Linked DNA regions of Homo sapiens. The protein of the gene in region 1 purifies or fractionates together with the protein of each later gene. This does not show direct contact. Each region holds a gene or a part of one and is shown in the gene's direction. Other genes may lie near its edges.

The links. Proteins that work in one complex are often made in the same cells at the same time.
Region 2: the proteins of SNX4 (region 1) and PPT1 purify together in Homo sapiens (co-immunoprecipitation; one large-scale study listed by IntAct). This does not show direct contact.
Region 3: the proteins of SNX4 (region 1) and WWC1 purify together in Homo sapiens (co-immunoprecipitation; one study listed by IntAct). This does not show direct contact.
Region 4: the proteins of SNX4 (region 1) and NPEPPS purify together in Homo sapiens (affinity purification with mass spectrometry; one large-scale study listed by BioGRID and IntAct). This does not show direct contact.

The regions. Positions count from the first base shown.
Region 1 is NC_000003.12:125,450,703-125,454,202, reverse strand, and holds part of SNX4 (sorting nexin-4), read left to right. Parts: intron 1-247; coding exon 248-393; intron 394-2,783; coding exon 2,784-2,898; intron 2,899-3,500. UniProt on the Homo sapiens protein: Involved in the regulation of endocytosis and in several stages of intracellular trafficking. Plays a role in recycling endocytosed transferrin receptor and prevent its degradation.
Region 2 is NC_000001.11:40,080,253-40,083,752, reverse strand, and holds part of PPT1 (palmitoyl-protein thioesterase 1 isoform 1 precursor), read left to right. Parts: intron 1-3,265; coding exon 3,266-3,356; intron 3,357-3,500. UniProt on the Homo sapiens protein: Has thioesterase activity against fatty acid thioesters with 14 -18 carbons, including palmitoyl-CoA, S-palmitoyl-N-acetylcysteamine, and palmitoylated proteins. In contrast to PPT2, PPT1 can hydrolyze palmitoylated proteins and palmitoylcysteine.
Region 3 is NC_000005.10:168,294,645-168,298,144, forward strand, and holds part of WWC1 (protein KIBRA), read left to right. Parts: exon of another isoform or gene 1-1,640; intron 1,641-3,500. UniProt on the Homo sapiens protein: Regulator of the Hippo signaling pathway, also known as the Salvador-Warts-Hippo (SWH) pathway.
Region 4 is NC_000017.11:47,618,108-47,620,941, forward strand, and holds part of NPEPPS (puromycin-sensitive aminopeptidase), read left to right. Parts: intron 1-242; coding exon 243-350; intron 351-901; coding exon 902-1,057; intron 1,058-1,170; coding exon of another isoform or gene 1,171-1,265; intron 1,266-1,629; coding exon 1,630-1,677; intron 1,678-2,834. UniProt on the Homo sapiens protein: Aminopeptidase with broad substrate specificity for several peptides. Involved in proteolytic events essential for cell growth and viability. May act as regulator of neuropeptide activity.

The DNA.
Region 1 (3,500 bases):
TTTAAATTATCTCTAGATTATTAATACCTAATACAGTGTAAACACTGGTGTCTCATATAAGTGGAATCATACAGTATTTGTCTTTTTGTATCTGTCTTATTTCACTTAGCATAATGTCCTGCAGGTTTATCCATGTTGTAGCATATATCAGATTTGATTCCTTTTAAAGGCTGAATAATGTTCCATTGTATGTGTATGTGTATGCCGCATTTTGTTTATCCATTCATCTGTTTCTGTTTCCTTTTAGACTGTGAGAACATTCTCTTTGAAGGGAATGACTACCAAGCTCTTTGGTCAAGAAACTCCAGAGCAGAGAGAAGCCAGAATAAAGGTGCTAGAAGAACAAATAAATGAAGGAGAACAACAGCTAAAGTCTAAAAATCTGGAAGGCAGGTAAAGATGCTGCGATGTTTAAGTAAGCTAGGCTTGTAGACTATATGGTAGATTATTTTATTTATTTATTTATTTATTTTGGTAACAATTCCCAGCTTCATTGGCATCCCTGAATACAGCCTATTCCTTTAAAATGCATTCCTAAGAAATTTGAGTTATCACGCTGGGTGTGGTGGCTCACGCCTGTAATCCTGACACTTTAGGAGGCTGAGGTGGGAGGATTGCTTGAGCCTGGGAGTTTGAGACCAGCCTGGGCAACGTAGGAAGACCCTGTCTCTACAGAAATAAATAAATAAATAAATAAATAAATAAAAATAAAAGAAAGTTGAATTATCAAAAATAATGTTATAGAAACAGTTGTTTCAATGTGGGGGAAAGAGAAATAAAAGTTTCAACTTCATAATATTATTTTCCTGCACTATTCCTGATTTCTACCCTTTGTACTTTCCCTCCACCATTTCTTCTCCCCTCCCCTCCTTCAGTACCCAGCTGAAGTGTTACTTCATTGTGAAGCCTTCTCAGGCTATCACGGCATTTAATTCATGCCAGTATGGTATGGCAGTTTTGTATTAGATGATTGATTGTTCTGTGTGACTATCCCTGGCTAAATTTAAGCCCTTCAAAGTCAGTGATTGTATCTTTTCCACATTCACATCCCAGTGCCTTACATAGGGCTTAGCATGTAATTGTTACATAAGTATTTCTAGAAATTCAGTTCTCAGAGACCCACTATCACTGTTTGACTCATTTTTCTTATTTTTGTTTTCATCTGACAGTCAGTGAATAGACCAAGGCAGACCAAGAGTGTATTTTGGGTTTTGAGGTGGTTTTGTTCATTTTTAGAACTACTAGCACCAAATATGGCAAAGTAATAGATAGAATTAAAAAAGACAGGCCGGGCGCGGTAGCTCATGCCTGTAATCCCAGCACTTTGGGAGGCTGAGGTGGGTGGATCATGAGGTCAGGAGTTTGAGACCATCCTGGCTAACATGCTGAAACCCTGTCTCTACTAAAAACCAAAAAAATTAGCCGAGCGCGGTGGCAGGCGCCTACAGTCCCAGCTACTCGGGAGGCTGAGGCAGGAGAATGGTGTGAACCTGGGAGGTGGAGCTTGCAGTGAGCGGAGATCACGCCACTGCACTCTAGCCTGGGCGACAGAGTGAAACTCTGTCTCCAAAAACAAATACCTCTCGGGATTTTAATTTTTATTATTATTTTTCATTTTTTTGAGACGGAGTCTCACCCTGCTGCCCAGGCCGGAGTGCAGTGGTGCCATTGTTGCTCGCTGCCACCTCAAAGTCCAGGGCTCAAGTGATCCTCCCATCTCAGCCTCCCGAATCACTGGGACTACCGGCTACCAAGCCTGGCTAAAAAAGTTTTTAAACTTTGGTTGTGATTTAAAACAAGTACATGCAGCTGGCCGTGGTGGCTCACACCTGTAATCCTAGCACTTTGGGAGGCCTAGGAGAGTGGATTGCCTGAGGTCGGAAGTTCAAGACCAGCCTGGCCAACATGGTGAAACCTTGTCTCTACTAAAAATACAAAAAATTAGCCGAGTGCAGTGGCGTGTGCCTGTAATCCCAGCTACTCTGGAGACTGAGGCAAGAACCCTGGATGTGGAGGTTGTGGTGAGCCAAGATCACGCCTCTGCACTCCAGCCTGGGCTACAGAGCGAGACTTGGTCTCAAAAAAAAAAAAATGCTAAACGTGATTCATAATCCATCTTGTCAAAAGAGTGTATATTTTCCAGTGACCCCTGGAAGGCACTTACTTCATTGTGACTGACACCTGTTAGGTTTGTGAGCTGGCTTAAGGAGTCATCTATGTGTATTTTATAGGAATAATTTAAAGGTAGAATCCTTGTGGCAAAAACTTAGATTATTAGGCCAGGTGCAGCGGCTCACGCTGTAATCCCAGCAGTTTGGGAGGCTGAGGTGGGCAGATCACCTGAGCTCAGGTGTTCAAGCCCAGCCTGGCCAACATGGTGAAACCCTGTCTCTACTAAAAATACAAAAATTAGTTGGGCGTAGTGGCGTGTGCCTGTAATCCCAGCTACTCAGGAGGCTAAGGCAGGAGAATTGCTCAAACCCGGAATGCAGAGGCTGCAGTGAGCCAAGATCACGCCACTACACTCCAGCCTGGGCAACAGAGTGAGACTCTGTCTCAAAAAAAAAAGAAAAAGTAGATTAAAAGGTACAAGAATATATGACTGTCTGTTTGCTTTTTCCCTAACTATAATTTTTAGGAAAATAAAAAAACTGTCTTATACAAGCAATAACTCTTCCTTCTACATAGGCAATTAAAAACCAACGCCAATGAGAACTGGTTAACTTTTTAGTACACAGTTTATTTAACTTAAATAATAATAATGGCTATACCTTTTATTTCAGAGAATTTGTGAAAAACGCATGGGCTGATATTGAACGCTTCAAAGAACAAAAGAACCGAGACTTAAAGGAGGCCCTCATAAGCTATGCAGTCATGCAGATCAGTATGTGCAAAAAGGTAGGGTTTTTCCTGTTTCAGTGAAGATATATGTATATTCAGAAGTGCTTATACATGTATTTAAATTACCTGACCAAAAAATTTTTCATTTTTATTCTTCTCTTGTAGAATGTTTACCAATTTCTCTATTTTAATTTTGTAGGATTTCTGTTTTATTTTGTTTTGGTTTTTTTATTTTAAAATTTTAAATATTTAAAAAATAGATATGGGGGGGTCTCGCTATGTTGCCCAGGCTGGTCTCGAACTCCTGGCCTCATATAGTCCTCCTGCCTCGGCCTCCCAAAGTGCTGCAATTACAGGTGCGAGCCACCATGTCCAGCCTCTACTGGTGTTACAACCAGTATGCCCATTACTGAGTCTCCACTCATCTAAAGTCCAAATTTGTATCTCCATTTATAACTTGTATTTGAGAATATATACCAAGATTATTTAGATCATATGGTACTCTTGGACCAGACAGTAAAATACCATTCCAGGTATATGCTTTGATTGGAAAATAGCTTGAACATTATTTCGTGAAGACCTGGTTATGATATGCTTCCTCATAAAGTAAATCATTTGTGTTGCTGATATCCATAGTGAAAGATACAAACATTGAAGCT
Region 2 (3,500 bases), on another chromosome or scaffold:
AAATCCTTTCCATCAGGTTTTCCGTTTACTTTGCCCAGATGCATCAAAGGGATCACTGTCTATGCAGCTACAACCTTGTAAATGTATTTCTTAAATAATAAGACTTGAAAATTGAAATTACTACTTGATCCATGGGCTGTAGAATGGATGTGCTGTGGCAGGCATGAAGACAACATTAATCTCTTTGTACATCTCCATCAGAGCGCTTGGGTGACCAGGTGCTTTTTAATGAGCTGTAATATTTGTTTGTTTTTTGAGTTTGTTTTTAAACTTTTTTTAATTAAAAAAAATAGTTTTTGAGACAGGGTTGTGCTCTCTTGCCCAGACTAGAGTGCAGTGGTGTGATCACAGCTCACTGCAGCCTTCACCTCCTGGACTCAAGCCATCCTCCCACTTCAGCCTCCTGAGTAGCTAGGACTACAGGCATGCACCGCCATGCTCGGCTACTTTTAAAAAGAATTTTCTTTTCTAGAGGTGGGGTCTTGCTATGTTGCCCAAGCTAGTCTTGAACTCCTGGCCTCAAATGGTCCTCCTACCTTGGCCTCCCAAAGTGCTGGCATTGTAGGTATGAGCCACCATGCCCAGCTGCGTGGTAATGTTTTGAAAGGAATCTTTTTTTCTGAGCAATAGGTCTCAACAGTGGGCTTAAAATAGTCAGCAAACCACACTGTAAACAGATCTGCTGTCATCCAGGCTTTGTGTTCCATTTGTAGAGCACAGGCAGAGTAATTTAGCGTAGTTCTTAAGGGCCCTAGGATTTAAAAAATGGTAACCCAGCATTGGCTTCAGCTTCAAGTCATCAGCTCCATGAGGCACTCACAAGAGAGTCAGCCTGTCCTTTGAAGTTTTGAAGCCAGGCATTGACTTCTCCTCTATAGCTGTGAAAGTCCTAGATGGCATCTTCTTCCAATTTAAGACTGTTTCACCTACACTGAAAATTTGTTGTTTATGGTCGCCACCTTCATTAAGTATCTTAGCTAGATCTCCTGGATAACTTACTGCAGCTTCTACATCAGCACTTGCTGCCCCATCTTGCACTCCTGTGTTATGGAGATGGTTTCTTTCCTTGAACCTTACAAACCAACCTCTGCTAGCTTCACACTTTTTTTCTGCAGCTTCCTCACCTCTCTCAGCCTTCATTGAATTGAAGAGAGTTAGGACGTTGCTCTGGATTAGGCTTTGGCTTAAGGGAATGTTGTGGCTGGTTTGGTCTTCTATCTAGACCACTCAGATTTTCTCCATAGCAGCAATAAGACTGTTTTGCTTCCTTATTATTTGTGTGTTCACTGAAATAACACTTCTAATTTTCCTCAGGAACTTTTTTTTTTTTGCATTCTATAAATGTTCAGAGTTCTAAACCTTTAAAAGGTTTCAAATACATGTATAAACACATTCTAGAATGTCACTCTGACTGTTGCTTCCTTTAACTTCAGTCTCATCTGCTCCTGGGAGGGAGAGCTCCATCTCTGACGTAGCTGGCTCTGTTGGGCTTTAGCGCCAGCCTGCTCCACCGAGTGGCGTTTTCAGGACCACTGCCTCTGGGCAGCTCTTCCACTCTGGCTACGGAGCGTATGTTGTAGAAATTTTGATTTCTCTCCCTGCCAACCTGGGATAGAGTTTGTTCGAATTTCCCCATGTGAGGCCTTGGGGTAACCGTGCCCATTTTGAGGAGGTGGGGGCTGGAAGGGAAGAGGAAGTGGAGAGAGATTGGAAAGAAAGTATAAAGAGTCCCCTTTGCTCCAGTTCCCAGCAAGTTCCTCATCTCCATCTGAGACTACCTCAGCCTGGACCTTATTGTCTATATCACTATCAGGCTTTTGGTCAAAGCCATTCAACAAGTCTCTAGAAAGTTCCAAGCTTTCCCACATTTTCCTGTCTTCTTCTGAGGCCTCCAAACTGTGCCAGCCTCTGCCTGTTACCCAGTTCCAAAGTCACTTCCACATTTTGGGTAACTTTTCAGCAGCACCCCACTCTACTGGTACTTATTTACTGTATTAGTCTGTTTTCATGCTACCGATAAAGACATACCCGAGACTGGGCAAATAGAGGTTTATAATGGACTTACAGTTCCATGTGGCTGGGGAAGCCTCACAATCATGGCGGAAGGCGAAAGGCACATCTCACATGACGGTAGACAAAAGAAGAGAGCTTGGGCAGGGAAACTCCCCTCTTAATTTTATTTTCTATTTATTTATTTATTTATTTATTTATTTTTTGAGATGGATTCTCGCTCTGTCTCCCAGGCTGGAGTGCAATGGCGTGATCTTGGCTCACTGCAACCTCAGCTTCCCAGGTTCAAGCGATTCTCCCTCCCTCTGCCTCCCAAGTAGCTGGGATTACAGGCACATGCCACCGTGCCTGGCTAATTTTTGTATTTTTAGTAGAGACGGGGTTTCCTCATGTTGGCCAGGTTGGTTTCGAACTCCTGACCTCAGGCGATCTGCCCGCCTTGGCCTCCCAAAGTGCTGGGATTATAAGCATGAGCCACAGAATCTGGCCCAACTCCCCTCTTTGAAACCATCAGATCTCATGAGACTTATTCACTGTCACGAGAACAGCACAGGAAAGACCCACCCCTGTAATTCAGTCACCTCCCATGACATATGGGAATTGTGGGAGTTACAATTCAAGATGAGATTTGGGTGAGGACACAGCCAAACCATATCAGCATGATAAGTATGATAAACCCCAGTGTCACAGGAGAAGCAAATATTGATGAGTCCTTTGCCTGAATCTTTTATAATTTCTGTACTATGCTGAACAGTCTGTCTCAACAAGGTGTCTTGTTGACAGACTGTTTCCTAGGTGCAAGTCTTGTCTTCTGTATTAAAGGGTAAGGCCTGGGACTTGAGGGCTTTGGCCTTTTGTCCTTGTTTTTTGAGACAGAGTCTCACTCTGTCGCACAGGCTGAAGTGCAGTGCTGCGATCTCAGCTCACTGCAACCTCTGCCGCCGGGGTTCTAGCAGTTCTCCTGCCTCAGCCTCCCAAGTAGCTAGGATTACAGGCGCCTGCCGCCGCGCCTGGCTAATTTTTGTAGTTTTAGTAGAGACGGGGTTTCACCATCTTGGCTAGGCTGGTCTTGAACTCCTGACCTCGTGATCCACCTGCCTCAGCCTCCCAAAGTGCTGGGATTACAGGTGTGAGCCACTGTGCCTGGCTGGCCTTTTGTCCTTTTAAAGTCTCTTGGTGGCCTTTGCACTGAGCATGCCCTGGGCGTACTGACTGACCTGTAGCTTGATCACCTCATTCTTTTTTTTTCCTACAGCCTCGTGCAAGCCGAATACTGGCATGACCCCATAAAGGAGGATGTGTATCGCAACCACAGCATCTTCTTGGCAGATATAAATCAGGAGCGGGTAAGCACCCAAACCGGGCTCCCATAGATGTGCGTTCTTTTTCCTGTTTAGGTCTTCATAAACAAATCAGCAGTGACTGTTTACCCAAACTGTCCTGGGCAGACACTAGGAAAGAGAAGTTCTGTTTTTTTTGGGAGGCAGGGC
Region 3 (3,500 bases), on another chromosome or scaffold:
GAGACAGAGTCTCGCTCTGTCGCCCAGGCTGGAGTCCAGTGGTGCGATCTTGGCTCACTGCAAGTCTGCCTCCTGGGTTCAAGCGATTCTCCTGCCTCAACCTCCCGAGTAGCTGGGACTACAGGTGCACGCCACCACATCCAGCCAATTTTTTGTATTTTAGTAGAGATGGGGTTTCACTGTGTTGCCCAGGCTAGTCTTGAACTCCTGAGCTCAGGCAATCCGCCCACCTCAGCCTCCCAAAGTGCTAGGATTACAGGCGTGAGCCACCACGCTTGGCCTTGGGTCACTGGTTTATAAACTTCATCTCTGTACCTCCTTGTCATCCCACCTGGACTGGGGTGGTATTGGGCCCCTGAACTTGGGGTCCTGAGGGGGTCTCATGTCAACTCTGGGGGTCACTATTGTGGTCCAGCTTTGTATGTTTTGGAAAAGTGCTAATTGGAGGATAGCCACTTGTGGTTTTCTGGAATTTCCCTCCGGCATACCCCATTTTTGCCTTTTAGTTCTGTCTGTGTGGCCTTGGGCAAATCACTTGACCTCTCTGAGGTTTGAGTGCTTGAGAAGTGGGTTGGTTAGATGGTCTTCAAGGGCCTGCCAGCTCTTAAATATTATTTCAAACCCTTCTGCCGCTCTTACCTCTCCAGACTCCATGAGAGGAGAAGGGGGAACAGGGATGGGCTATGAGAAAAAGGAAGAAGAAATTTAACAAAGCTGAAAAGAGCCAAACTTATTCCGGGGGGTGGTGGGTTGGGGAGAAAAAATTCTGCCAAGGTAGTTATATCCCTGCAATTAATTAATGCTGTGAGACAAAAAATTGCACTAAAAATTTCTACTCCGTGTGTGTGTGTGTGTGTGTGTGTGTGTGTGTGTGTTTATTTGCCTTGGATTTTTCCTTACCTGAATCATGGAGATGCCCACCCATTCCCCTGAATTTAAAAGAAGTAAGTCAAATGGTCCTTCAGTCAGAAAAGTGATTTCTTAGCCACCAAGGACAAAATAGCGTCTCTGGTTACCAACCCTAAAGAATGTCTTGGCACATTCCTCCCTCTGGGGCTGAGCTGTTTTGTGTGCTGGCCGGCCAGGAGCTGCTGGGGGTAGGGAATCCAGTTTTCAGCTTCCCCTTTCACCAGGGGGTTGGAAGAGCAGCCAAGCAGCCAGCCTTGCCAACTCTCTCCCCTTCTCACCCAGGGGAAGACTGGGAGGCCGAAATTCCTGAGGATGGTTGTCCCAACAACCGGAGAGGGTCCAGTGGGCAGCTTGGGTCCTGCCCACTGGGCCAAAGGCTCCAGCAGCACCACAGGCTTTTCCTGAGTCAAGGCCAGCCTGGGAAGGTGACAGGCCCTTCGGGAATCAGGTGCTGTGGATCAGGTCTGAACAGCACCTTGGAGCCGTGCTCCTTTTGCGGAGTAACTCTGGGTGCTTTTGTGAGCTCTAGCGAAGGGGCCAGCGTCCTGTGTATTTCACTTCGTGGTATGCAAAACAAATGCACCGATTGTTCTCGGAGGAAGAATAGATCTTTGGGGCTGGCCCTCCCAGAGAAGGTTCCTGCAGCCTGATTCCTTCTTGTTGTGCGATTTGTATTCAGACCTTCTCATAGGAACCACCTGGGAATTCTGGGCAGTTTCTGGGTCTGTATGGTAAGTACCGGAGGCACACATGGCTGGAGAGGCCATGCTGAGAGGATCCAGCAACTTCTCCCATGACTTGAGGATCTTTTGCTAACCCTGTTATTTCAGAAATAATTGATATGGTAGGAAGTCAGGTCTACAGCAGTCAAAAAGTCTAAACCTCTGTCAGGTCACAGACCCTTATGAGACTGATAAAGGTTCAGAACTCTTCCTAGAGAAAAGGTTTTTGCACATAATTTCAGGGACCTCCTGGACCCCAGGTTCATAACCCCTGCCATAGATAAGCTTGGAAATTGCTTGTCACCATGGAAAGGCCTCCTGTTTAGCTAGGTAGCAAATAATGATTGGGTATTTACTATATTCAGGCAGTCTGCTGAGAGCTTTACATAGGTTATCTCTTTAAATCCTCCTAACAACCCTGGGACTAGGTACAATTATTACCCACCTGAACTACCCAATGCTCAGGGAGGCTTGGTAAAGCCCCTCAACCTTTGTGGAGCTGTGATGTGAATACTAGGCGGGCTCACACCAGAACACACATTTCTAACCACTGCCTCATTTTACTTCCTGCTGAGTTAGCTGCAGAATCAAGACCACTGCTCCAGTGCCTAAGGAATTTGGCCTTGGGAAATGGAGCCAAAACAGGCATGATTTCACTTACCTGTGACCATTCTGGTGTGGTCAGGTCATGGGCACCTAGAGGGCAAATGTAGATAAGTGAGTCTTTGGCTCCTGGAATCTTGGATCTGCCACTTGCTACCTGAGTTACCTTGGTAATTGACATATTGTCCCTGAACCTTGCGTTTGCCTTCTAATGAATGGAAAGATGTCCATCAACCATCAAGGGTAGTTATGGGTGATAAGTAAGTGAAGGTAGGTAGGGCAGCAAGCCTGAAGTCTGACATGCAGGGGACACTGAGGAATGCCAGTTCCTTTAACTTTTCCTAGAACGTACCTGTGAAACAGCAGCATCAAATGGATGCTGCATATCTACCCAATTTTGCAGCTGGAGTGGACCTTTCTGTTCGTGAAATCCAGGCCTCTCATTTCACTGATGAAATTGAGAACCAGCCTGGTGCGGTGGCTCATGCCTATAATCCCAGCACTTTGGGAGGCTGAGGCGGGCAGATCACCTGAGGTCAGGAGTTCGAGACCAGCCTGACCAATATGGAGAAACCCCATCTCTACTAAAAGTACAAAATTAGCCAGGCATGGCGGTGCATGCCTGTAATCCCGGCTACTCGGGAGGCTGAGGCAGGAGAATCGCTTGAATCCGGGAGGTGGAGGTTGTGGTGAGCCAAGATCGCGCCATTGCACTCCATCCTGGGCAACAAGAGCGAAACTCCATCTCAAAAAAAAAAAAAAAAAAAAAGAAATTGAGAACCAGAGACAAGTGACTTGCCCAAGGTCACACAGAAAATAAATGCCAACCTCGAGTCTAGTAAAAGTTTCTTTTTTCTCTTTCTCTTATATAAATTTTTTACTAAAAGTCAGATCTATGTCCTTCTCATCAATGATAATAATTCACACATATTTTATGTGCATGGCTGCATTATTCTCCATAATCGTTTTTGATTGTATAGACCAGGAAGTTGCATTCATCGTGCGTCACAATCATTTGTGAGTTGTGTCATAGGAATTTGCTGTATGTCAAATGATTACATTTCCAGTGATTGCAAGTGAATTCCTATTTTTATAATCAATTAAAATGGATTTAGAGTTATTGTCAGTCTAATGTCATATTCCAACAAGCTTTGTTTTATTTTATTTTATTTTATTTTGAGACTGAGTCTTGCTCAGTCACCCAGGTTGGAGTGCGGTGGTGCAATCTCAGCTCATTGCAACCTCTACTTCCCGGGTTCAAGCAAT
Region 4 (2,834 bases), on another chromosome or scaffold:
TGACCTCAGGTGATCCACCCGCCTCGGCCTCCCAAAGTGCTGGGATTACAGGTGTGAACCACCGCACCTGGCCCAAAGCATCTTGAAAAGTATTCTCTTTCTTTAATATAATGCCCTGCCATTCTTACCTAGTGAGAATATAGAACCTAAGTTTTACCTTACTGGGGAAGAAGCTCATATAATCATATGCAGAACATCCAAGGGAGAGTTAACTATTCCTATCTTTATCTTTTTTCCTGTAGCTTCATAAACAAGCAGATATGCAAGAAGAGAAAAACCGAATCGAAAGAGTCCTTGGCGCTACTCTTTTGCCTGACCTGATTCAAAAAGTCCTCACGTTTGCACTTTCAGTAAGTTACGGTGAAAACTGCATTTAGAAGTGAATCGTTACCCATCTCTGAGAAGTGTCTCTGATTCAGCTCTGATCCTCTTGAGCTGCCTTAACCCTAACTAAAGCTTCCTTTTCCAGAGTAACTGGCTTGAGTTTTTGTTACTGACTTCTGTTTTTCTCCCACTAGTGGCGAGAATCAGAATAGTTGGGAGAGTAAACAAATTGTCTCTCCAGAATGGAAACTATGAGGACAGGGACTCTTGAAAACTGGGAAACTGGCTTATGCCTTTGCTTACTTTGTGTCTCTTCCTTTCTTAAACCTATAGGCTCCTAAGCAAGTATCTGTTGAGCAGTCTGTCTGTCTGAACCTGTCTCAGTACCTCATTCTCATTTTGGTTATCTTTAGCTTAAACATTATCTTCTTTGCTGAGAACTTCTGGTTCCAGTTATTCCTAAAACAAGGAATAAGTGTCTTCAGTGTGATTACTTCAGTGTCACAGTATGGTGCACTTTCTGGTACCAGAATATGTTTTTGATACACTAGACTTTTAGCTCTCTTTCTTTTTTTAGGAAGAGGTACGTCCACAGGACACTGTATCGGTAATTGGTGGAGTAGCTGGAGGCAGCAAGCATGGTAGGAAAGCTGCTTGGAAATTCATAAAGGACAACTGGGAAGAACTTTATAACCGATACCAGGGAGGATTCTTAATATCCAGACTAATAAAGGTATGTGAAAAACTTTGAGTAGCTTGCTAATCATGGATATTATTTAGTGACATCCATGATTCACTACACCCATACATTGTGGTCTTTGCTCTTTAAATGTTTCCTGTGGCCAGGTGCAGTGGCTCACGCCTGTAATACCAGCACTTTGGGACGCCGAGGTGGGCAGATCACCTGAGGTCGGGAGTTCGAGACTATCCTGGCCAACATGGTGAAATCCTGTCCCTACTAAAAATACAAAAATTAGCTGAGCGTGGTGGTGTGTGCCTGTAATCCCAGCTACTTGGGAGGCTGAGGCAGGAGAATCGCTTGAACCTGGGAGGCAGAGGTTGTGGTGAGCCGAGATGAGGTCATTGCACTCCAGCCTGGGCAACAAGTGTGAAACTCCGTCTCAAAAAAAAAAAAGTTTCCTTAAATAGTTACTGGCTTTATTTAAGGACTTCTCCATCTCCCATCACACATCCTTTATAACAGACTGAAGTTGGCAGAGAACAGAATGATTTATTTTTAGGGTAAATGGAAGTTTGTTCTCAGCCTCTTGGTTTCACTTACTGTTTAAAACCATTGTTTTGCAGCTATCAGTTGAGGGATTTGCAGTTGATAAAATGGCTGGAGAGGTTAAGGTAAGGAAAATACTGTTTACTCTTCACTTTTCAGTCTAGTAAGTAAAAACAATAACCTGGTTGTAATTATAGTGTTGGGATAATGTACTGTAGCATCTCTGTGTTTTTGTTTAGAGAAAGACATCATGCAGGGCTGTATAGGCCATATTAAGAATTTCCTAAAAATGGCCAGGCATGGTAGCTCACATCTGTAATCTCAGCACTTTGGGAGGCCGAGGTGGGTGGATCACCTGAGGTCAGGACTTCAAGACCAGCCCGGGCAACATGGTGAAACCCCAAATTAGCTGGACATGGTGGTGCACGCCTCTAATCCCAGCTACTCGGGAGGCTGAGGCAGGAGAATTGCTTGAGCCCGGGAGGTGGAGGTTGCAGTGAGCTGAGATCGTGCCATTGCACTCCAGCCTGGGTGACAGAGCGAGACTCCTGTCTCAAAAAAAAAAAAAAAAAAAAAAGTCCTAAAAATGGAAAGCCTTCGAATGGTTTATAAACAAGGCAGTGCCTTGATCTGATTTGTGTTATAAAAATTTCAGTCTGGCTGCAATGTGGATAATAGTTTGGAATGGGGAAGAGAAGATGTTGGGAAGCTAACTCTCCTAGCAAGAATGATAGAATAGCTTACAGTAGGGTAGTGGCAGTAGTGGAGGAGATGGAATAATGGAGATTCAGGGGCTTGAATTTGTTAACCATTTAGTTCAACAATATTTATTGATTGGCTTCTCTGTTGTGAGCATATCTGGGAGAGGAAGAAAAACAAGCCAGGATAATCCCCAGGTTTCTGGTGTATAAATGTTGGTACTACTCTGCGATGGAATGGAAAAAGACTTGAGGCCCTGAGAACTGAACCATGATTAGGAGCCTTGGAACAGTAGCAATTGTCATCTGTGTAAATAAGGTTATTGATTTCTAAAAGGTCTATGTTTAATCAGATGGATTAGTCATTCTGTCTTTCACACCTGTGGTGACTAATTCAAAGGAAAAGCCCTATCATTTTGCCAGCTGGTGTTTAAGAGTTGCTTTGTTTTCTGTGAAACCAGGTGTACTGCATTAGAAAAGTTTATTCAACTTTTAATCATTAAGCATTGTGATAAATTGTAAACTTAGAAATTGTTTGGTTTACTGTATTAAAAATGTTGGATTCCTGTAATTCCAGCATTTTG